4 linked regions of the Homo sapiens genome follow. The protein of the gene in region 1 interacts with the protein of each later gene in a pairwise test. Each region holds a gene or a part of one and is shown in the gene's direction. Other genes may lie near its edges.

Region 1 (7,428 bases):
ACACCACGCCCAGCTAAGTTTTTTTTTTTTGTATTTTTTTATAGAGGTTTTGTCATGTTGCCTAGGCTCATCTCCAACTCCTGGGCTCAAGTGATCAGCCCACCTCAACCTCCCAAAGTGCTGGGATTATAGGATAAGCCACCACCCCAGCCTTCACAAACTCTTTAGATCTAACTGTTATGCCTTGGATTGACAGGGTTGGCAAATTACCTGGCGCTGGTGTTGCAATGCTGCCTCCTCCCATGCTTGAGGCAGGTGCTGCTTCTCAATCTTGCACCCTTTCCCACTGAGCATGGACTTGCCTTACAAGCCTCGTCCACTCAGGGCTCCAGAAAGTCACTATCAATCAATGGGAACAAGCATACCCAGTGAACCACCTTACTATCCTAGGGTTCTAGCCAGTATAGTCTTATTTTTTGCCTTTATTGATGCCATTTTTTGGAAATGGACCCACTACCTTATTATGCACATTTTGAATTTAAGTAAAAATATATAATAGCAATAGTTTGGATTCCTAACTAATATGAGCATTTAAATACCTAACTGATGGATTTAATGATGATTAATTTTGTTAAAGGTCTTCTTTCTACATCAACGAAAGATTTTAATTCTAGATGTATATATGGTTCCCATGGTTCCCTTAACTTTTTAAAAGTAAAGTGGCCTCTGTTTTCTTTCAGGCTCTGAGCTTTTCATGTGATTTAATAGCATCGATGGTTCACAATTTTCTAGAGCTCTGCAGCCATCTTAAAGCTGATATTAATGTTCCTGGCTTTTGGCAATGAATAACTAATTATGCTGCAAATAGCTAAATTAGGAAAGAGTCTATGGGAGAAGCCCTAAAAGAATGATCCATGGCAGGATTTTGGGAAGAGCTGGAGGTGCGGAAGTTGTCCAGACAGGAAAAGTGCAGCAGCCATGATGGTCGGTGCCTTCGCATCAGGGTTTTCACTCGCTGAGCCAATGGGTCCATAGCTGATGTCAGCTAAATGCCCATGGTGGTGAAGAGCTCCACACTCCTTGTGTTCCTGGGTCATACTCCGTCAGAAGAATCAGAAGCTGAAGCAGAATCATTGGAGCATTTGGCCCTATTCTCTGCTTGCTTTTGTTATCGGTGACTTAAAGAGGGACCAACAGAACACCTTCCTGGGCCTTGAGGGAGCTCTCTGTTGCCATCACCAAGGCCCCATTGGCCCACGCTTCTACCATGGTGTGTACCAGCTCTCCTGGGAGTCACGTGGCCACATATCAAGGGGAAGGAGCTACTTCCCTCCTAGAGCAATGGCACCTGCAGGTAAGAGCTGAGTGGTGAGCTCTTACTTCTGCACTCTGCACTGGGCCAGTATGGATCTCCCCAACCACATTTGACAGTCTTCATCCTGCCATACCAGGTATCACCATCTGCTTCAAAGTCCCCTTTACTATTTGTTCTACAACTGCTAGAAAACCTAAGGCCAAATAGATTGATAGCAAGCTGTCCCCTAATTTCTAAGATAATGCTGTATAGATTTTAAAAAGAATTTCAACAATCCTTATTGCATACTATAGAGGGAGTTCTGTTTCCCAGAAGTTGAAAGTATGGTAAAATCCCTCCTCATCATTCTTAGGGTGCTAGCTGTCCTGGGAGCTGGAAAAGTGATGCAGAAATTGCTGCTTCTCACAAGGCCATGACCTCTCCCTAACCTAGGTAAGGGTCAAGGCAAATGGTCATTTGCCACTAAATTATAAATCTCTGAGCTGGAACTTGCTGGATGTCAATGCTTTGAGAGATATGAGGCCTGGGCCTGCATCTGGGCCCCACCCATCGACTTCCTACATCTGTATTCTGGTTAGGCACCCCGCCTGGCTGCCTACCTGTACTTAAGCCTTCCTGTACTCTGGGACTAGGGGTAAGGGTGAAGAGAGGGTAGAGGAGGTGAGCAAGTGAGGGAAAGAAAAGGTAGTGGAGTGGCAGGATGGGAGGGGGCTCTAGCCAGGATGTTCTGTAAGCAGAGCCCAGCAAATTATCTCTGTTCCCCTTGGCCTGACCCCTTTTCCCAGGAGCAGGGCCTGGCAAGCAGGGTTGTTAGGTAACAGTTTCAACCATCCTCTGGTGGGTTACATACAAAAAGCAGTTTACAGTGTCAATGAAATGAATGCTAGTGTACCTTTCTCGACCTCCTAGCACTCTGGAGGTAAATGTGTGCAGCAGGTCACTGCAGACAGGGAGAGAGAGTTCTACAACAGAGTTGAAGGTAAAAACATGAAATAATTTGGGATATGACCCAAGTGATAACAATATGGTTTAACTGGTTTACCTGGTCTTGTAACCTAAAGAATAATTTCCATAACCCAGTTAACATTCTACTCATTACAGTATTTATGACTGTATATTTCTTAAAAAAGAGTTGAGGCTATGCACACAAATAACTACTCAATGACAAAGAATGAGCTGAGGGCTACACAGTGGCCAGAGAGCAAGTATATTATAAAGGGCTTTGGATCTTGGAGATTCCAGCACCCACTAACCCTGTAGGCACTAACCTCTTACTTTTCTCCTTAGTCAAATGGATTTAACAATCTTTGCCCTGCAGAGTTTTTGAGCAAATTAGCAACAATATATAAGGACAGTATCTAGCACAATACCCCAAATCGACTAACTCCTCCGTAAAGAATAGCTACCACTATTGTGAGAGTTTTAAGTCAAGCTGTGAATAAAACTCTTGGGTCCACTTAAAAATACCTCCCCTGGATGTAAGCATCCAGGGAAATCAGGGAATGCCATAAGACAGCCCTAATCTAAAAGCCTACAAGAAGCTCAGTGGGCTTCAAGGAAGACACTGCTCTTGGTACGATGAGGAAACCTGGCCCTCTATTTGCCTCCTGGGCCACAGTAATATTGATAATAGCTGCTGCTTTTAGTTGAGGACCATGTACGTCTGTGTCACTGCACTGGCCACTTTACTTACACTTTCCTGCTTTGTCCTCACAAAGATCCTGTAAGGTGTGTATTGGTCCCATTTAGCAGGTAAGACAATGAAGACCAGAGGTCCAGCACCTTGCCTAAACCACACCTGCTGGGATTTGGATTCAAGTCCAACCGTACAGCTCAAACGCTCAGCCACTTCCCTAAAGTCCACCCCCAGCTACATTAAGTAAAAAAATCCAGAAAGATGCCACCTGGGGGTCTGGAACTGCCTCCTCCGAGCACCCGGCTCTCCCCTCCCTGCGGACTCTTCTCTGGAGAGGATGTGATGCTTCTTACTTTTCTCAGATCCCTCTCCCCACCCTGCGAGTGACGTTGCGCCTCTGTGCCTGGTGGGATAGGGATCTGGGAGCTTCGCCTGTTTTTTGCACACTGCCATCCCCTAGTCTTAGGGAGCGAGCTCTGTCCCGCTTTTCACATCTCCGCGTCTTTCCTTGCACTCTACATCACCGCTGGGAATGTCCCCAGACCTGATCGGGGCATGCACACTGGGGTGTGCGTGTGCGTGTGGTGTGTGTTCCTGCGCGTGTGCCGGGCTCGCGGGGCAGGAAAAAGCGCCTAATCCAGGCTCTGCGTCACTCCCGCAATTGGTTAGAAATGGAGTTTCCTGGTGTTTAATCCCGGGAGGGCACTTCGCCTTCGTTGTTTCCCAGAGTCCCTGATTTTCCTGCCTCGCATGCCAGCGCCCCATAGGGCATCCGTGCCTCAGTTCACCTCTTGCCATCCTCCAAGGACGGGGAGAAGGGGTAAGGCGGGGGAGAGCAAGGTGGCTTGGTCGCCCCCGGCCCCCGCCCCCCATGTTGTGTGCAGTTTCCACCACGTCTGTTTCGGAGGGAGAAGAGGAGGGTGCAGATGAGGCGAGGCGCCTTCGGGAGCGCGGAGAGCGGGCAGGCAGTGCCACCTGCTGAGAGCCACTCAGGCCGAGCAAGCGGCGGGCAGTGCCACCTGCTATAAATAGGCCGCCAAGGACAGGGTGTGCGACTGTACATCCCGCCACGAGGGCCTGCATCACGCGCGGGGCCCCGCGCCCCCGGCTCCCCAGGGAAACGCTGTGCCCAGATCCTGCGCAGGGGTCTGGATGGGGCGGCGGCCCGAGTACTTCCCCCCTATTCCCCCCACAGACACTGGCTGAGGATGGCCCGCGGGCTTGGGGGCGGGGGGTGGCAAGGAGGGGAGGGAGGCCGCGGCGGACCCGCAGTGCAGCAGCTGTTGCTCGCGTGTGACTCGCCCGTCCGGGCCGTGCTGCCCAGGCACAGTCACACGGCGCAGTGGGGAGGAGGAGGACACCGAGTCCCCCTCCCAGCTCCCCGGGGACCGAGTGGGGAGATCCCGGCTCCTGTCTTCCCCTCGCCTCCAGCGCGCTCGCCCAGGCTGGGAGGAGGAAACCAGAGCCGCGCGCAGACACCTCCTCCTTCTCCTCCTCTTCTTCCTCCTCCTCCTCCTCCTCCTCTTCGGCTGCTGCTCCTGGTGCCGCCACCGTCCGCCGGTGCCTGTTGCTGCCGCCGCCGCGGGACCTGCTGTGTCCTCAGCTGGGTGGAGAAGAGGCGGGCGCCGAGCCGAGGGGAGCCCCCTCCCCGTCCCCCCGCGGCGGGAAGAGCGCAGCCAGCCGGGTGCGATGGACTCCCCGCCCGCCCAGGCCGTCCCCAGGATGCCCCCAAGCACCTGCGCGTCCCGGCCCGGCCCCGGGCTCTGAGCGCGCCGCGGCACAGGTAAGGCGCTTCCTGGGGCTTCGTCCTGGCCACCCTGCTGGCTCCTCTCGGGGCGTCGCGGCCGCCCCCTCCCGCAGCACGCCCCTGCCCCGCCTGGCCGCGGAGGGGAAGGCATCTGGCCGCCCACGGACGCGAGGCCAGGGTCTCTCGGGGGAGGAAGTTCATTGCCATCTCGTTGCCCCCCTTACCCCCCCACCCCCGCCGCCCTTGGACGAAAGCGAAACCTTAATGTTGCTAGCGACCCGAGAGCTCCGCCGGCTTCTCCCCCAACCCCCGCCAGCTCACTGGTCCGCGCATCTCTCCCCTCCCCCCTCCCGCCAATTATCCTAGCGTGTTTGCAAGGCGACCAGATTGGAAAGAGTGTGGTCAGAGTGACCCCAAGCCACGCTTTAAAAGTTCAGGGTACTTTGCAGTAGTAACTTTGGCAGCTCCACCAGTGCGCGCAACATTTCTTTCTATGGGTACATCCTGTACCAGTCATTTTGAAACCCTGCTTCATTGTTTCTAGCCGCTTCCTGATGGCTCTGTGATTATGAGACCCCCCTCAAACTTCACCAGGCATTAAGGTTTTGTTTTTGCTTTTTTTTCAGAGAGGTATCATTTCGTTTGAAATCCACCTAGATGTGGCTTTTCCTGTTTTGATTTTACTTAACATAGCTTATTCTCTGGAAGTTGCTTTAAAAAGAAATTGAAAGTGATGGTTGTTCCTTCCACCAAACAGTTTAATTTTCAGGGTGCCTCATATTAATGGATATGTTTTCCCTTCATAGATTTCTCATTGTTTCCCTTATGATGGGATGATTTCATTTATTAATAAAATCAGACTTTGAAAGAGCATTTAAAAATGACCTGGTTTAAATAGGTCACACCCAAGAAACTCAGCTATCTGTACAAGTTCAAACTTCTAAACTTTTTCAATGAGCTAGGGGTGGTGGCACCCACCTGTAGTCCCAGCTACTTGGGAGGCTGAGGCAGGAGGATCACTTGAGCCCAGGAGTTCGAGGCCATAGTGAGCTATGACTGTGCCACCTCACTGGAGCCTGGGTGACAAAGTGAGATCCCATCTCTTAAAAAAAAAGAGTTTAGGGGACATTTTCTGAAGTGAACACAAGTAGAGCATTCTAACACTATTGAGTGCAAGGAGACCTGGAAGGGACTAAGTGGTTCAAAGCAGGAAATAAAATCATCAGGTGATAATTAAAATAATTTCTTTCCTGTGGATTTGTCCAGCCATTTGCAAACCAGGAGAATAGGAAAAAAAATCACTAGTGTAGTTATAAATTATTACATTACGTTTTCAAAGGAAAATTTTGCAAATGCGTCTCCTTGTCATAGTCTATTGTTATCTACCCCACTGAGAGTGCTGGGGCTTCCCCTTTTCACCACGACAGCATTTCTGGTTGGGTGGCAGTCATGCAGTGTTGACCTGGTGTCCCATAAGGCACAGTTTGTCAAAACACTAGTGGGTATTAGGAGGAAACGTGCAACTCTGAAGCAACAGAGCTTGCCCCTTCTTCCTCATTATCCAGCTGGTGATAATCCCTGTCCCCCACTTCCCTAGAAGACAGCTTTGACCAGGAAGGCTGCAATGACAATGAGATGTACCCCTATGCAGAGCCAGATGTGGGCGGGTGGCTTTTTTGTGGTCCAGATCTTCTAGGATCTTCTAGGATGTAACCCTGGCAAGCAGTGGGGAGCCTGAATCAAGCAGCATGGCTGTTACCTCTTCTGTGTTCACAGCAGCATCTTCAGTTGTCTTGGTGCCTGGAGCAGGCACCACAGCTGCCTGCTCTGTTGGCCACCAGCTTTCTAGAGTAGATGGTAGGGAGGAGAGCAAGGGGCTCAAGAGGATTCTGTCTTTGAACATGCTTTTAATTTGATCTGACAGAATGGCAGCTCCCTGAAGTCCTTCCTACTCTCTCCACAGCATTTCTCTGTAGGTCCCCAGTTTTTGCTCTTTTCAGATTCCCAGAGGACTGAAAATGTATCACGGCCCATTTGGGGACTTCCTGTATATGTGTGGGTGCCTCAGGATCATTTGTTTTGCCCTTTTCCAGTCTACCGTGCTGCCCTTCTCAAGTTTAATGACCACGTTAGTTTCAATATTTTATATATTTCTCAGCAGTTTTCATCTCTTGGTCATTAAACTTGAGAAGTAAAATCTGCTCATTAAAATGACTGAGTCCATGGCCAGGCATGGTGGCTCATGCCTGTAATCCCAGCACTTTGGGAGTCCAAGGCGGGTGGATCACTTGAGGTCAGGAGTTCGAGACCAGCCTGGCCAGCATGGCAAAACCCTGTCTCTACAAAAATATAGATCTACAAAAACTAGCCAGGCATGGTGGCATGTGCCTGTAGTCCCAGCTATTTGGGAGGCTGAGACAGGAGAATCGCTTGAAGCCAGGAGGCGGAGGTTGCAGTGAAACATGATCGTGCCACTGAGTCCATTCAGCAGCAGAGTAGTGTTGGGGTTTGTATCCCTGTAGTGATGACGAAGGATTTAGGTTTTCAGTCAGAACTGTTACCTTACAATTTCCTTCACTGACTTTTCTTCCTTTCCAACACCACATTCCAATAAAAAATATCTTTAGACCAGATTCTTCACGAAAGACATGAAGGTTTTCATGCTTCAAGGTTTTTGACTTTTTTTTTTTTTTTTGAAAGGAGTCTTGCTGTGTCACCCAGGCTGGAGTGCAGTGGCGTGATCTCAGCTCACTGCAACCTCCGCCTCCTGGGTTCAAGTGATTCTCCTGC
Region 2 (7,238 bases), on another chromosome or scaffold:
ACAAAAATAGGATTACGCTGCACATATTCTTGTGTGATCAGTATTATTTCATTTCTCAATGAAATAACCCCCACGTGGGTAATACACATTATCCTTTTTAGTGTTTCCCCAAATTCTCCTTACATATCACCACAATTTATTTTACGTTTACCTACTAAAAGATTTTTAGATCCTTCCCAAGGTTTTGCAAATATAAATGGCAATGTGAGGAACATTCTTGTATATACATCTTTCCATAAGATTATAGGTTATGGTAATTTATAATTTTTAAATGTTGGTATAATAAGATCTTCAGAAAAATTTGATGTGTACACTCACATCACAATGTTGTATATCCATCACCACTTTCTCCTTCCAGAACTTTCTCATTATCCCAAACAGAAACGCTATACCGTTTAAGCACTAACTCCCCATCCCTTTTTATTCCAGTCCCTGGTAACTCTGTTTTACTTTCTGTCTTTATAAATTTGCCTATCCTAGGTACGTCATATAAATGGAATCATACAGTATTTGTCCTTTTGTGTCTGCCTTCTTTCTTTTTTTCTTTTCTTTTCTTTTAAGAAACAGAGTCTCATTCTACTACCCAGGCTGGAGTGCAGTCGTGCAATCATAGGTCACTGCAGCCTCGAACTCCTGGGTCAAGTGATCTTCCTGCCTCGGCCTCCTGAGTAGCTGGGGCCACAGGCACATGCCACTACCTCCAGCTTGGCTTATTTCACTTAGTGTATTTTCAAGTTTTAATCACGTTGTAGCGTGTACCAGAACGTCATTCTTTGATATGGCTGAATAATATTCCACTGTATCCATTCATCAGCTAATGGACACTTGGATTGTCTCCACCTTTGGATATTGTGAATAATGCTGCTATGAACATTGGTGTAAACACCTTTCTATGAACCTGTTTGAGGATATTGTTTTAATTAAAAGCAAGCTGCTACCACTACATACCTATTAGAATGGCCAAAATTCAAGACACTGACAACAAATGCTGGTGAGAAATTGGAGCAACAGGAATTCTTATTCATTGTTGGTGGGTGCAAAATGATGCAGCCACTTTGGAAGACAGTGTTGGCAGTCTCTTACAAAACTAATGATATGGACAGGAGGCAGGAGGGCGGGATTCCTGGTGAGGGTTCTTACCCTCAAGCTTGGACCCATGGCCCTAAATGAGAACAGGCATTCCTGTTTTCACGCCTGTACGTTGCCTTTTCCAAGACCATTGTGGCCCACCCTGCTCTCTATCCTGTGCCCATAAGAACCCCAAATCCCAGGCTCCACAAACAGAAGAGCAGCAGAGGGGCAGAGGGGCAGAGCTGCAGAGCAAGGTGGTGGAGAAGGAGAAAAGAGAAGAAGCAATTGAGCATTGAAGAGGTAGCTGGATGGTCAGAGAGGAATTTGGCCAGGGACAGCAGAACTCCAGGGGACGATTATCTTCCCACGCCATCCCCTTTCCAGCTCCCCATCCTGCTGAGAGCCACCTCCCTCACTCAATAAAACCTCTGCATTTACCATTCTTCAAGTCCATGTGACCTGATCCTTTCTGGATGCTGGACAAGGACCTGGGTATTAAGAGGGCAGGGTGTAAAAGGCTGTCACCCTCACTCTCCACTGAGCTGGTTAACGCTTAGCTGTCCATGGATGGCAACTGCTAGAAGAGCATTAATTGTAACACACCCCTAGATGCTACCATGGGGCCAGAGCCCAAAGGTGCTCACCCTGGCCCTGGCACCCACTTGCCTCTGTGCTCCCCCTCCCATAAGGGGTTTTAGCACAGTGGCTGAGTAAGCTAGCCACGACAAGTCCCGCGAAGGGGTCCAGGGAACTCTCCTGTCTCATTAACATACTGTTACCACACAATCCAGCAACCATGCTAATTTTTTTTTTTTTTTTTGGAGACGGGGTCTCGCTCTGTCGCCCAGGCTGGAGTTCATTGGTGCAATCTCGGCTCACTGCAAGCTCCGCCTCCCAGGTTCACGCCATTCTCCTGGCTCAGCCTCCCAAGTAGCCGAGGCTACAGGTGCCCGCCACCACGCCCGGCTAATTTTTATTTTTGTATTTTTATTAGAGACAGGGTTTCGCTGTGTTAGCCAGGATGGTCTCGATCTCCTGACCTCGTGATCCGCCCGCCTCGGCCTCCCAAAGTGCTGGGATTACAGGCGTGAGCCACTGCACCCGGCCGCAACCATACGATTTACCCAAATGAACTGGAAACTTATATCCTCACAAAACCTGAACACAGATGTTTAGAGCAGCTTTATTCATAGTTGCCAAAACTTAGAAGCAACCAATGTATCTTCAGTAGGTGAATGGATTTAAAACACTGGTACATGCAGACAGTAGAATATTATGCAGCACTAAAACGAACTGAGGCTGGGCACAGTGGCTCATCCCTATAATCCCCGCACTTTGGGAGGCCAAGGCAGGAGGATTTCTTGATCCCAGGAGTTTGAGACGAGCCTGGGCAACATGGCAAAATGCCATCTCTACAAAAAATACAAAAAATTACCCAGGCATGGCTGTGTATGCCTGTAGTTTTAGCTACTTGGGAGGCTGAACTGGGAGGGTCACTTGAGCCCAGGAAGTGGAGGCTGCAGTGAGCCATGATCGCACCACTGCACTCCAACCTGGGTGACAGAGTGAGACCCTGTGTCAAAAAAAAAAAAAAAAAAAAAAAGCCAGGGTAACTTGAGGGAAACATGAGGGAAACTTAAATGTATATTACTAAATGAAAGAAGCCAATCTGAAAAAGCAACATATGTATGATTCCACCTATATGACAACCTGCAAAAGGCAAAACTATGGAGACAGTAAAAATATCAGAGATTTCCAGGGGTTGTGGGATGGATGAATAAATGGAGCACAGATGATTTTTTGGGGGGCAGTGAAACTATTCTGTACGATACTGTAATGGTTACAGGCATTTGTCAAGACCCATAGAATGTACAACATCAAGTGAACACTAATGTAAGCTATGGACTTTGGGTGCCAATGATTTTGTTTTTTAATTTATACTTTTTGAGACAGGGTCACCCAAGCTGGAGTGCAGTGGCACAATCTTGGCTCACTGAAACCTCAGCCTCCCAGGCTCAAGTGATCCTCCCACCTCAGCCTCCCGAGTAGCTGGGACTACAGGTGCGTGCCACCATGCCCGGCTAATTTTTGTATTTTTTTTTTTTTTTTAAGAGATGAGGTTTCACCATTTTGGCCAGGCTGGTTTCAAATTCCTCGGCTCAAGCAATCTGCTTGCCTCAGGCTCCCAAAGTGCTAGGATTACAGGTGTGAGCCACTGAGCCTGGCCAGGTGCTGATATTTAACTGTAGGTTCACCAATTGTAACAAATACACTGTTCTGGTGTGGGATATCAACTTTGGGGAGGTTGTGTGTGCTGGGGGGACATGGGTTATATGGGAATTCAATGTATTTTCTGCTCAAATTTTGCTGTGAACCTAAAACTGTTCTAAAGGATGAAAGGAACTGAGGGTGAAGGGAAATGGGAAGATGGTGGTCAAGGGGTACAAAGTCTCAGTTATGCAAGATGAGTAGTTCTGGGGAGATGCACAGCTATGTGACGATAGTTGACAATATTGTGTACTTGAAATTTGCTAAGAAGATAGATCTTAAGTGTTCTCATCAGACAAATAACTATGTGAGGTGATGCACATGTTAATTAGCTTGATTATGGTGAATATTTCACAAATGTAGATATCAAGTTGTACATCTTAAATATATAGATCTCAACAAATATATATACCTCAACAAAGTGGCCTGGGAAAAAAGGGAAAAAAGCTAGTTGCAGCACATGATACCTTTATGGCCAGTTTTGTAACAACAACAAAAAAATCAAAGTGCGAACTTAATGTTATACGCAGTTAATCTTTAGAAAGTGAGATTATGGATACTTTATTTTGTACATATATTCTAATTAAATACAGTTATAGATTATTTGTGTAATGTTTAAAAGCCAAGTTGTTGTATTTAAGGGGGAGGTGGTGAATTGTAGTTCACGACCCACTCTGGGAAAAAAGAAAACAGTGCAGGCTAAGGAGATTATTTTGGTCGGCTCATCAGACCGCCTAACAAGGCGAAGACTTTCCTGAGAGTCCCTAAAGCCGCGGCCCCGGAGGCTTGTGGGAAATGTAGTCCCGAACGTGGATGGTCCACCCCTCCGAGGACCCTGGGAACGGCCCGCGCCCCTGTTTCTGCGCATGTGCAGTGCTGCGAGCGCGCCGGTGGCCGCCCTTCCCCCACCACCAGCGGCGAGTGGGTGACAGAGCCCCCGTCTCCGCGCGTCTTCGCCGCCCTGCGCCGTGACCCGCTGTGGCACTGGGCCACGAGTGGAGGCTGCGCCCCTCCAGGTACGAGAGGGGCTTCCAGGTAGCTCCGCGCGGCCTGGGGCCGAGGGGAAGGAGATGAGGGATGGGCTCGTGCCCGCGCAGGGTGGGAGCCCAAACTTCGGCTACTCGTAGGCGGCAGTGACCCTCAGGGCGGCGTCCGGGGTTGCCCGGCGCTCGCCTCTGAACGGGGCCGGCGGGGCACGCCTGGCCGAACGTGCGGGGGCGGGGACGGCGGAGGGAAGGGCGGCTATGAGGCTTCGCCTTCTTCTCTTTGTCAGGAGATGCGCCTCAGACGGGCGGCGAAGGGCTCGGGCCGCGCGGGAGCGAGTTCTGGAGCCCCGGCGGGCGCGCGCGCGCGGGACGAGGCCCCGCCGGGGCGTGGTGGGGGCGTGGCCTGACACACCTGGCCACGCCCCGATGCCCGGTGCCTCGTGGGTGGAGGAAGGACTGGAGCCTGGTCAGTTGCCGGTGGTGAAGGAGAACCGTGATCCCTTTGTCAGAGGGTCTTCAGTGAGGTGTTCCCCTGATCCTCGCATCCACCCCGTGACTTCCAGCGTTATCATCTCCGTCGCTATCCCAGGAACACGGGAGGTTCAGAAGGGGAAAGTGATTTCCCTAAGGTCTCACAACCCGGTGGTACTTTATGTGAGCAGCAGATATTTTTTCATTTATCTTTTGATTTTACTCGCTGGTAGATTTTGCCATGTATACGTTTTGACGTTTTAAATTTCTCTCGGGTGGAATTTACTGTTCTTTCCGTTTGGGGCACCCAAAATTCTTCACTACTTTGAAATACGAAAGTTTTCCCATGATTCTGGTGCAGTCACGCTCTGCGTAACAGTGTTTCTGTCAACGAGGGACCTCATGTAAAATGGTGGTCCTATGTGATTGTAATACTATATTTTTGTATTGTACCGTTTCTTTTCTTTACTTTCTTTTTTTTTTTTTTTTTTTTGAGACGGAGTCTCGCTCTGTCGTCCAGGCTGGAGTGCAGTGGCTTGATCTCGGCTCACTGCAACCTCCGCCTCCTGGGTTAAAGTAGTGCTCTGCCTCAGCCTCCCGAGTAGCTGGGATTACAGGCGTGAGCCACCGCGTCCGGCCAGACACAATTTATTGATGTAACTGTTCCTCTAAATACTACTTTAACTACATCACTCAAATTTTTATATCTTGTATTTTCTTTTCTGTTGTTGTTGTTTTTGAGACTGAGTCTCACTCTGTCACCCAGGCTGGAGTGCAGTGGCACTCAGCTCACTGAAACCTCTGCCTCCCGGGTTCAAGCAGTCCTCCTGGCTGGGATTACAGGCACCCGCCACTACACCTGGCTGATTTTTGTATTTTTAGTAGAGACGGGGTTTCACCATGTTGGCCCGGCTGCTCTAGAACTCTTGACCTCAAGTGATTCTCCCGCCTTGGCTTCCCAAAGTGCTGGGATTACAGGCATGAACCACTGCACCCAGCCTTTTTATTGTGTTTTCATTACCATTCAATTCAAATTTTTTTAACTTCCCTTGTGACTTCATTTTTTACCCTTATTTATTTAGATTGTATTGCATAATTTCCAAGTTTTTGGAGATTTTCCAGATCTTTTTTTTTTTTTTTTTGAGACAGAGTCTCGCTCTGTTGCCCAGTCTGGAGTGCAGTAGCGAGATCTCGGCTCACTGCAAGCTCCGCCTACCAGGTTCACACCATTCTCCTGCCTCAGCCTCCAGAGTAGCTGGGACTACAGGCGCCCGCCACTACACCTGGCTAATTTTTTTATTTTTTTTTGTATTTTTAGTAGAGACGGGGTTTCACCGTGTTAGCCAGGATGGTCTCTATCTCCTGACCTGGTGATCCACCTGCCTCGGCCTTGCAAAGTGCTGGGATCACAGGCGTGAGCCATCGCACCCGGCCCAGATCTTTTTATATTATTGATTTATAGTTTAATTCTGATTTGGTCAGAATACTGTGTTACGAATTTCAATTATTTTAAATTTGTTGTGGTTTGTTTTTGTATTGTATTTTTGTTTCATTTTGTTTTAGTAGACTCCTGGTCTCAAGTGATCCGCTGACCTTGGCCTCCCAAAGTGCTTTACAGGCGTGAGCCACTGCACCAGGCCTGTTGTAGTTTGTTTTAAGGTCGAGGATATGATGATCTCTCTGGGTAACTGTTTCGTGTGTATTTGAATAAATATTGTGCTGTTGATCGTAGAATCTTCCTTGATTGATTGATTGATTGAGACAGGGTCTGTCTCTGTTGCCCAAGCTGGAGTGCAGTGGTTCAGTCACAGCTGTCTGCAACCTCAAACCTTTTGCCTCAGCCTCCCGAGTAGCTAGGACTGCAGGTGTGCGCCCTAATCCTTTTGCCTCAGCCTCCGGAGTAGCTAGGACTCAAGGTGTGAGCCACCACACTCAGCTAATTTTCTGTATTTTTTGTAGAGACGAGGTTTTGCCATGTTGCCCAGGCTGGTCTCAAACCCCTGGGCTCAAGCAGTCCACCCACCTTTGCCTCCCAAAGTGCTGGGTTTACAGGCATGAGCTACTGTGCCTGACCCTCTTTTTCCATTCTTTTATCTTTTTTTTTTTTAATTTCCTGACTCCTACAACTGATCATCCTTTTACTTTGAATGTAGCTATGTTTTTATATTTTAAACAAACTGCTTATAGACAGCACATGGTTTGGTCTTACTTTTTTTATATAATTTGACCTCTGTTATTTAATTGGTGTGTTTATGCCAATTATTGATATAGTTGTGTTAAAGTCTACCATCTTGCTGGTTTTTTTCTGTTTTTCTTATTTGGTCTTTGTTTCTGTTTACCTTTTTTTCTGTCTACTTTTGTCTTAAGTGGGTCTTTTTTATAATTACATTTTATCTCCACTGTTGTCTTATTGTATATTTGTAAAAATTTAACAGAGTTTTT
Region 3 (3,004 bases), on another chromosome or scaffold:
TTTTAACTAGAAAGAAATGTGTTTTCACTGTTCTGAAAAATCCTGTTGTTATACAGTAGAGCTTTATAACCAAAAGCTCTATGGCTGGATTTATTAAAAACAAAAACAGAAAAACAAAACAAAACAAAAATTTGGTCCTAGAAAAAAGGAAGTAAAATATCCATTTTTAAAAAGTTGTATATATTAAACTGGGAGATTGCCCTTTCTTCACATATTATTCATGCATTCTGGTTTATATGATTCAGTTTTGGAGTTAAAAGTAAATTTTCTCTGTCAGCATTGCGTCACTGAGCCATTTTCCTCAAAATTTGCTTTTTAAGAAATAGCCTGTGGGCTCAAGACCTCCCTGCAGTCTGCTGCTGAAGCAGTTGTTCAGAGAGCAAGAAGAGATTATGGGGATAGTCTTTCCATTAACAGCTGCTTTGATAACAGAACAAGAGTCAAGCTTATATGGTAGATGTAAGACAAAACTTGGTATTTTATAGACAATTTTAGGTAAACTTTTATAAGCTAGGCTTTCTTAAACTACATTGCTTATTTGGACCGATGCTGAGAAACTCTTGAACTAAATCTCAATTTGCCCTATTTCTCTTTTCTACTATCTCTGTTGACCCCTTTATTTCCCTTCCCTGATGACAGGAGATTCCCTTTTCCATGAAGCATCTCCTGGTCTGGCCAACAAATAGATTGTTTTTTTTTTTTTTTTTTTGAGTCTCCACAAATGGTCTGCTTTGACACTTACCTTCTACTTTATGAGACAGTCTGCTGCATAGCTGGATTATTATTCCTCCCACCACAGCTCCAGATTCTATTCTGTCTGAAGACAACTGTGTGTCTTCACCCCACAATCTCTGTATCCCCTACAACATACGGCATTTGCTTCTGCATAGTAGGTCCCTAAGTAAGATGAAGAACCTGCATCTGAAAGATTATGTGGTTTGTGCAGGATCTCACCACACAGTCTGGTGGAGCTAGACCGACTATGCAGAATTTGATCCTTAGTCTGTTTTTTGTTGTTGTTGTTTTGTTTTTTGTTTTTTGCTTTGTTACCATACTGCCCTCCCTCTAAGCATTTAAGCATTAGGAGGCTCCCCCATGTCTTTCTGTTCATGGATACTCACATGCCTAAATTTGATTTATTTCTATAGCTAACAGCACAGGAAGAGGATCATGAAGGAAATCAAGAATAATAATCAGATAACCAAAAAGCCATTTATTATGGGACTTGAGAATGTGATTTTTTAAATGAAAGTGATATATAATTTTTAATTCTATCAATAGGTTTACTTAAACTAGTATTACAATAGGATTTTGTTTCATGAAAAAAGATTTCTGCTAATAGTGGAAGAAACTAATTTATAAATATACTTGGTAGCAGAGAGAGAACATTAGCTTGGGATTCAACTGCAGTTGAGCAGTAAAGTTAATAATTGCTAGAAGTTGATTAACATTTTTGCAAAATTGTTTACGGGAGCCTCTAATAGAGATCATATTAATTAAATTTCACTTGTTTTCCCTCCCCTTTGTTACCATCTAGTAGATGTGCTAATAAGCAACAAAATGGACAAATTGCTTGATAGGAGATGCAGCTAACTTGGACTCTTAGAATCACACGGTTTGCCTAGTTAGAATTAACTGAAAACATATTTTTTTAACTTCAACTAGTATTTATGCTTGAACATTGTCATGGAGAAGAACTTGTTATATTTTATAGCAGAATAAACAGAAATAGTTTCATTTCTGTTTTCATTATTTATACATGCTTGTGTTTGTGCTTTTCTCTTTCTTTAAAAGGAAATCATAGGTGGGATGCTGGATATAGAACCAAGACTTTGGAGGAAAGGCATCCGAGAAAGCTTTGAGGATCAGAGGAAAAAAGCACTGCAGTTTGCTCAGTGGTGGAAACCATATGACTTCACCAAAAGTAAAAACTATTGAGGTGTACCTTCCATTTTAAAATTTTTCTTCAGATCCCGTTCAGTTTTATTTCCATTGCATCTAATGAAGCAACTGACCCTCAGGTCACAGGCAGAGAGAGTCACAGCAGCAGACTGCTCTGGGTCAGTGACAACTGTACATCAGGAGATTGTGTTGTTTTCTTCTTCACCTGCTCCTATCTATGGACTTCATTTTAGTCACCATGGAGTAAAAACATATATTCGATGATCTGCTCACATTCCTGCTCTCTACCTACTTCTTGGTATTCCGAATTGTTCAGTTAATTTAGAGAAGGCCTTTTCTGAAGGGATATCTAAAAAGCATAGGAAATCCTTGGTTCAGAGGGAAGTGGGTCTGCTTCATGGTTGTTAAGTCTACTGTCTGGCTTCTTTTGCATTTTTAAAAATAAGACGATTTAATTTTAATTTCATAGGATTTTATAGAAAAGCTCTTAATTTTCTACTAGCAGTATATAGTATCACTTCTATTCTTTTTGTTAAAGGAAAAGGAAATGTCCCCAAAGTATTAAAGAATTAAATGATACTGAAAATTTGTATGATTCAAATTTGTTTTTATTTCTGGATTTTTAAATAGTATCTTTGAATTTTGGTGGTTCTAAAAGTAATTCTTCCAAATAACATATTTTAGGGTTGTTTGGGGTTTGCATGAAAGTTAAAATTTATAGCCAAATCATTGGTTTTGAGTTGTACTGATTGTCGTAAAATCTTAAGTAATGAGAGTTTTTATTTATTTATCTTTTTGTTTTGTTTTTATTTATTAAGACAGAGTCTGGCTTTGTCACCCAGGCTGGAGTGCAGTGGCCCAATCATAGTTCACTGTAGCCTTGAACTCCTAGTCTCAAGCTATCCTCCTGTTTCAGCTTCCCAAAGTGCTGGGATTGCAGGTATGAGCCACCATGCCTGGATGAGAGTATGGGACATTCTGTTGTCCCTTACTTGATCCAAGGAACGTAATTTTTATTTGTTCTCAACTCACACCATAGTCATATTTTGTAAGTATAGGGTTTTTATGTTTTGAGTGCTCCTACTTTTCTTTTTCTTAATGG
Region 4 (6,753 bases), on another chromosome or scaffold:
TGTGCTAAGGCTTGGAGCTTCCCCACCAGGACCCTCAAAGGAAGAGGTTTCTCTTTCAAGTTTTGGTGGTTTACTCCAGACATTCTATTTGCTGTTCTGTGTAGGGGTCACTTGTTATTATAACTTCTTTTACCAAATTTCCAAGATTGTTGTCTTCAAGATCACCTAGACTGGAGATCTGCTATCACTGCCACTTGGGTTAGAAACCCTCCTTCTCCATATCAAAGCATCCCCATGACATGAACCCTCAAACTCTGACCTGTTCCTCCAATCCATTCCTTCCTGTCCCCTGGCTATTGCCCTGGTTTGCGTTTCCTTATTGCCCACCCAGACTGCTGAACCAGCCTACTAATTGATCATCCACGCTGCTGCCAGGGTGAGCTTTCTAAAATCTAGATCCCATTGGGTTTCTTTCCTGGTTTCAAGAGTTTTATTGACTTCTCCCTGTGATCTATACAGTGGATTTCAACCCTCATAAAAAAGGATTGAAACAGAAGAACCCCAAATTTTTTCAGTGAAGTGTTATCAGGAGCTCCAAGATATAAAACAGATAAAGTCTAAGCTGCCCTGGGTAAAGCAAGGACAGAGGCCTCAGAGCCTGCCCTAAAGTCCTCCAGCCCTGCCCCTCTGGGCCCAACACAGCTCTGAGGAATCCCGGAACTCTTCCGGACACAGCTGGGATGCTGCAGCCCAGCGGGAGGATGTCTATGCTTCCTGGCTTGGCATAGCAGGCCCTCCAGAATCTGCCCCAGCCTACCTTTCTGGCCTCATCACCTGCCACTTCACTGCACACACTCTCCATGCCCCTGCTACACAAATCACACAACCCCAATGTGCCAGGCATTCGAGGCTCCACACTGCAGTCCATGCAGCTTCCTCGGCCTGGTGTCTTCCTGCTCATCCCTGTCTGGACAATCCTAACTGTCCTTCCAGGTTTCACTCCAGTGTCATCCTGTATGGAGCCCTCTCTTATAAACAATTCAGACAGAGCACACCCCCACCTTCCCCTGGGAAATCTGTTAAGGTGAACTGTTTAACCACTTAAAACATCTGCTACCCAGACCTGTTTCTCATAGCAATATCATCTTTCTAATCCTGGCCCAGATTATCAATAAATGTGTGTGACATTATGAAGTGAAGACTGTGTCCTTTATTCCATCGTCAGCAGAGGTGAGTGAGCCATACACAATTCCCTGAGGAATCCTGAGAACCTTCAGAGGAAGCAAGAGGCCAAAGAGCCCCGAACTGGAAATCTGAGCCCTTGGGTTCTCATTCTGACTCCATCCCAAACTAAGTCTTTAAATTCAGCTCTACGCTGCCATGGTTTTAGTGCTCTTGGCATAATGATAATGATGATTCTAATGGCTAATATTTATAAGGCAGCTACCACATGCAGACAGACACTGCTCTAAGCATTTTTCATGGATTAACTCATTTTTGCTTTACAGAACAAAGGCTGAAGCATTTACTAGATTGAACCCTTTCTCCAGCTGCATTTGGGACTGAAAGAGACTTTACAGGGATGAGGAAAGGTGAAATGACTGCTCAGGTGACTCAGCTGCTAGCAGAACTGGCTGGTGGCAGGTCTCCTGGCTTTCAGGTGAGTATACTTTCACCCACATAACACTGCTCTATGGGAGTAGCCTGGGTATTGACCTGTCCCTGCAAAATGTTTTACAAAGCATCAACAGAGAGATATGACACTCAGCTATCAGCACAACTCAATACATGAAAAAAATTTCCTAACTTCAAAAGTTAAATGATTCCATTCAAATTTGGTTTACTTTTTAAATTACCATCTAGTAAGGACTATATTCACATAAAATAATTTATTTAACAAGGATACAAATGGTGCCAATAAAATCTAGGGTAGAAAAACTTCTTATCCCCAGCTATAGACATGCTGGTGAGATCCTAACCAGGCAGAGTGGCTCCTTCCACTGTAGTTAAGGCTGCTACCACGTGGCTTCAAGGACATGGTGTCCATGACCCTCTGCTGTACATCAGATCATAATTCTCTTAAAAGCATGGCTCAATTTAAAGTGTATTCCCCGAGAGGCAGGCAGCACGCTATCATGGAAAGAGAAGTAAATCTGAAGTCAAAACTCCTGCCATTGACCAAGTGACCCTGGGGAAATCAGTTAATATGGCCAAGTCCCAGATTTGTCCAGTGGAAAATATTATCAAGGCTATTGGTCCTTCCTAGCTGGGGTTGCTGTGATGCTTCAAGGAGACGTGAATGAAGAGGACTGGTGTGGGTAAATACTCATTTTTCTTCTTTAAGGAATGGTCATACTTGGAGAATGCTATCCAGAACTGTTTCCTCATTGCAACCCTGCCTTAGTCTCTTCCAGATGCTATTAACAAAATACCACAGATTGGGTGGCATATAAATGAATGAAATTTATTTCTCACCATTTTGAAGGCTAAGAAGTCCAAGATCAAGACATCAGATTTGGTGTCTGGTGAGGATCCTCTCCCTGGTTCAGAGATGGCCATCTTTTCACTGTGTCCTCGCGTGACAGAAGGGATGAGGGATTACTCTGGGGCTCCTTTTATAAGGGCACTAATCCCATTGATGAGGGCTCCACCCATATGACCTAATCACCTCCTAATACTATCACCTTGAGGGTTAGAATTTTAACATATGAATTTGGGGGAAACACAAACCTTCAGACCACAGCAACCCCAGAGAAGAGAAATGACTTAGCCAAGATCCACAGTATGATGTGGACACGACAGAGCTTGGAGTCTCCCCTTTCTAGCACTCTATCCTTTACTTAAACTATTTTAGGATTACATTAATTTCATTCTTTTCTTAAGCTAGGAATCTGCAGAAATATTTGTAAATTCATATATTACTTTAAGTCTTAACACTTTGTTTTTGAGACAAAGTCTCACTCTTGCCCAGGCTGGGGTGCAGTGACACAATCATGGCTCACTGCAGCCTCAAATTCCTGGGCTCAAGCAATCCTTCTACCTCAGCTTCCAGAGTAGCTGGCACTACAAATGCACCCACCATGTCCAGCTAATTTTTAAAATTTTTATATAGAAGCAGGATCTCTCTATGTTGCCCAGACTGGTCTAAGTCCTGGGCTCAAGGAATCCTCCTGCCTTGCCTTCCCAACATGCTAGGATTACAGGCATGAGCCACCACCCAGCCCAACCCTTAAAACTTTTAACTGACGCTTAGCATGGCACCAAAATAATATTTATTGAATGTATTCTGGTGCCAACCTCTGGATGCATAATTTCATCTGACCCTCACAACAGTCCTGCAATGCCCATATGATGAGGCCCCACTTCCCATTCCACCTTGCTGGAACTGGAGGTCAGGGAAACTTAGGGAATTTGCCCAAGAGCCCATGAGTGAAGAGTGGTAGAGGAGATTCAAATTCTTTTTCTCTACCAGATCCAGTGCTTTTCCCATTAGCCAAGGGTGCCTCAACAAGGAACGAGAATCCCACAAAATTGGAGGAAAAGGGAAAAAAAAATGTGATTTCAACATGGTGTTCACTAATGCTATTGCAGAAATGTGCACGCAGCATTCACATTTTGACAAAAGCAGTAATTACCATATTAGGAAATAGAGTCGTCTTCTACCTTTTCTAAAAATCTTAAAAAGTAAACATTAAAGCATACTTTGGGCTTGCTAACTTAAAAGGCAAATGGGTGGTGTCGCGTCCACAGCCGTTCTATTTGACCACATTGCAGAGGTACACACGTGCAGGACGGTGATTCTGCAGCTAAGGGTACCTCCTCCCTGAGACTGCACCCCGGCCCTTCTCCCCACCCCTTCCATTCTGAGGGTGACGCCTTCACCTGGGCTCTCTTAAAATCCTGCTGTTTGTGTGCAAATGCGAGTTCAAATTTCTCCCTGAAACACTGGTGGGGGACACTATGCACCCTCAGCTTTAAATGTCACCCTGATTTCCTACATATTCCCTCCTCCAACATACAACCCCTCTCTCCCCCACCCGACCCCCACCACCCCCATCCCCAGCCTCCTGTCCTTCCCATTCCAGGTGCTCCGGGTGCTAGCAAAGCTGGGGTGGGCGGCGCCGGGCAAGGTCTGAAGACTGCGAGGACCCAGCTGCCAGGCGCATTGTGAAGTGGCCCGAGCGTCACAGGCGACCCGGACCTCGGGACCGGGGGGCAGGGCGGGTGTCTGCAGCGTCCTCGGGAGGTCTCAGGCCCCTTGGGCAGACGCTGCGCGTGCCCAGAGGGAGGGATGGCAGGCTTCAGCCACTTCTCCCAGCCGCCCTACCGGGATCTCTGGGAACCCCCGCGGCCCGGCGGAGAACGAGAGTCCACGCAGCGGCTGGGCGGGCAGAGGTCCGGAGCCGACTCCACCGCGTGCTCCCGGGCCGGGACTCCGGGTGCGGAGAGCGAAGCTGGGGCGTGCTGGCTGCACCCGCACTGTTCGTTCACCCCGCGGCCTCGCAGGCGCGGGTGCTCAGATTCACTGCGGGGCAGCCGAAGCCTGAGCGATGTGGCCCGCAGGCCCCTGGAACGTTCCAGGAAGCACCGGCCCCGCAGCAGGCGCCTGGAAGATGCCTGGGGAGAGACAGGAACCAAGCCCCGCCCGGCTTGGCAGCCGCAGACCCAGCTGCCACCCCAGCGGCCGCAGCCCTGCCCGCATTACCCTCTGGCCCAGGGAGACTCGCCCCCGCCTTGCCCCGGAGGAGCTGGCACTCCCCTGAGTGGCACATTCAGGGTAGAAAAGGCACAGGGTGGAGACCAGTGGGCAGTGCCACTCGGCAGACATCTAGGTCGCTGGTCCCCTTCCTCAGTTCCCTCGGAGCGGTCTTCTGTGCCCTCGCAAAAGTTCAAGAGGCACTCAGCCTGCGTGTGCGCCCAGAAGAGAGACAGCAGCGACCAGGTTGAGTCATTAGCCAGCCGGGACTCCCAGCCCTTGGCCTCCAGCAAAGAGATGCGGAGCCCGCACACCCAGGTCCTGAAGAGCAAGCTGGAAGAGGTGGTGGTGTCCTCCCAGGACCAGCAGATTGTGGCCCTGGTGCTGACCCGTCTCAAGAAGGCCCAGAGGATACGGGAGCTGCAGCAGCAGGCGGCTAAGGCCTGGGAGGAGCTGAAGCGCTCGGATCAGAAGGTCCAGATGACCCTGGAGCGGGAGCGCCGGCTGCTGCTGCGGCAGAGCCAGGAGCAGTGGCAGGAGAAGGAGCAGCGCAAGACCCTCCAGAGCCCTGAGCAGCGCGGCCTGCGGCGGGACAGCCAGAGGAAGAACGTGCCCCCGGGGGAAAGCCGGTGGAAGGAGCAACCAGAGGACCAGGAGAGCCCGCGCCAGGAGAAGCTGGAGAAGGCGCGCGCCCAGGCAGAGCACCGAAAACAGTGCCAGGTGCGGCGCCTGCGGGAGCAGGAGAAGATGCTACGGAACCTCCGGGAGCAGCACAGCCTGCAGCTGCAGAGGAGGCTGGTGGAAGCCTGTCGCAAGAGGCACCTACATGCCGTGGAGGGCCAGAAGAAGGTCCAGGACACCAACCTGAGCTCCCTCATCAATTACCAGGCCCGGAAGGTCCTCATGGACTGCCAGGCCAAGGCTGAGGAGCTCCTTAGGCAGCTGTCCCTGGAACAAAGTTTCCAGCGGTCCCAGGAGATACACCAGGGCCTGAGGAAGGAGCGGCAACGCGAGCTGAGGGAGAAGGCCCAGAAGGAGGAAGAGCAGTTGCAGCAGGCCAGGTGGCGCGCAGGGGAGTCAGAGGAACAGAGGAAGATGCGCAAAAGAATTCTGGTGGAGCTGGCGGATGAGAAGATCCGACAGGCCAGGAGTCACGTGCACAAGACCACTAGGGACAAGGTGCAGCACCTCCGGGAGCTCAACCACCTGAGGGAGAAAAACCACCACATCCTGAAACTGAAAGCCGAGAAGGAGGAAAAGTGTCACATTGAGGGCATCAAGGAGGCCATTAAGAAAAAGGAGCAGAGGGTGCAGCACATTTCCCAAGGGAAAGACCCAAACTTCCAGGAGTTCCAGAAGCTCCCTCAGGCCTCCAGGAGAGAGGAGAGAGCGCCTCCCAACAGCTCCCTTGATCAGATGGTACTAGAGGCCCAGCTCCGTGCCTGTCAGCAGAACAGGGGTTACTGAGAACCAAGGACGCCTGGCTTACAGTGCGCAGCCAGAAGGAGATGTGGCAATGTGATTCCTTTTGTAATCTGATTATAATTGAACATTGATTTTAAAAAAGCATGTAAAATAGCTGCAATTTCCTCTCATGAACTGGTTTATTGATTCACTTGGATAGTTTAGAGGGTCGGAGAGAAAATTTTGGGAATTTTTGTTTTTTTAAATTATACTTTAAGTTTTAGGGTACATGTGCACATTGTACAGGTTAGTTACATATGTATACATGTGCCATGCTGGTGCGCTGCACCCACTAACTCGTCATCTAGCATTAGGTATATCTCCCAATGCTATCCCTCCCCCCTCCCCCCTCCCCACCACAGTCCCCAGAGTGTGATATTCCCCTTCCTGTGTCCATGTGATCTCATTGTTCAATTCCCACCTATGAGTGAGAATATGCGGTGTTTGGTTTGTTGTTCTTGCGATAGTTTACTGAGAATGATGGTTTCCAATTTCATCCATGTCCCTACAAAGGACGTGAACTCATCATTTTTTATGGCTGCATAGTATTCCATGGTGTATATGTGCCACATTTTCTTAATCCAGTCTATCATTGTTGGACATTTGGGTTGGTTCCAAGTCTTTGCTATTGTGAATAATGCCGCAATAAACAT

Evidence for each region.
Region 2: the proteins of TBC1D1 (region 1) and ZFP1 interact in binary tests that used the Homo sapiens proteins (3 or more experiments, as listed by UniProt).
Region 3: the proteins of TBC1D1 (region 1) and CWF19L2 interact in binary tests that used the Homo sapiens proteins (3 or more experiments, as listed by UniProt).
Region 4: the proteins of TBC1D1 (region 1) and CCDC185 interact in binary tests that used the Homo sapiens proteins (3 or more experiments, as listed by UniProt).

Annotation. Positions count from the first base shown.
Region 1 is NC_000004.12:37,886,675-37,894,102, forward strand, and holds the start of TBC1D1 (TBC1 domain family member 1), read left to right. Parts: upstream 1-4,409; 5' UTR 4,410-4,674; intron 4,675-7,428. UniProt on the Homo sapiens protein: May act as a GTPase-activating protein for Rab family protein(s). May play a role in the cell cycle and differentiation of various tissues.
Region 2 is NC_000016.10:75,144,289-75,151,526, forward strand, and holds the start of ZFP1 (zinc finger protein 1 homolog), read left to right. Parts: upstream 1-4,235; 5' UTR 4,236-4,355; exon of another isoform or gene 4,356-4,374; intron 4,375-4,612; exon of another isoform or gene 4,613-4,751; coding exon of another isoform or gene 4,752-4,979; intron 4,980-7,238. UniProt on the Homo sapiens protein: May be involved in transcriptional regulation.
Region 3 is NC_000011.10:107,325,844-107,328,847, reverse strand, and holds the end of CWF19L2 (CWF19-like protein 2), read left to right. Parts: intron 1-1,794; coding exon 1,795-1,938; 3' UTR 1,939-2,488; downstream 2,489-3,004.
Region 4 is NC_000001.11:223,389,245-223,395,997, forward strand, and holds CCDC185 (coiled-coil domain-containing protein 185), read left to right. Parts: upstream 1-4,170; 5' UTR 4,171-4,231; coding exon 4,232-6,103; 3' UTR 6,104-6,221; downstream 6,222-6,753.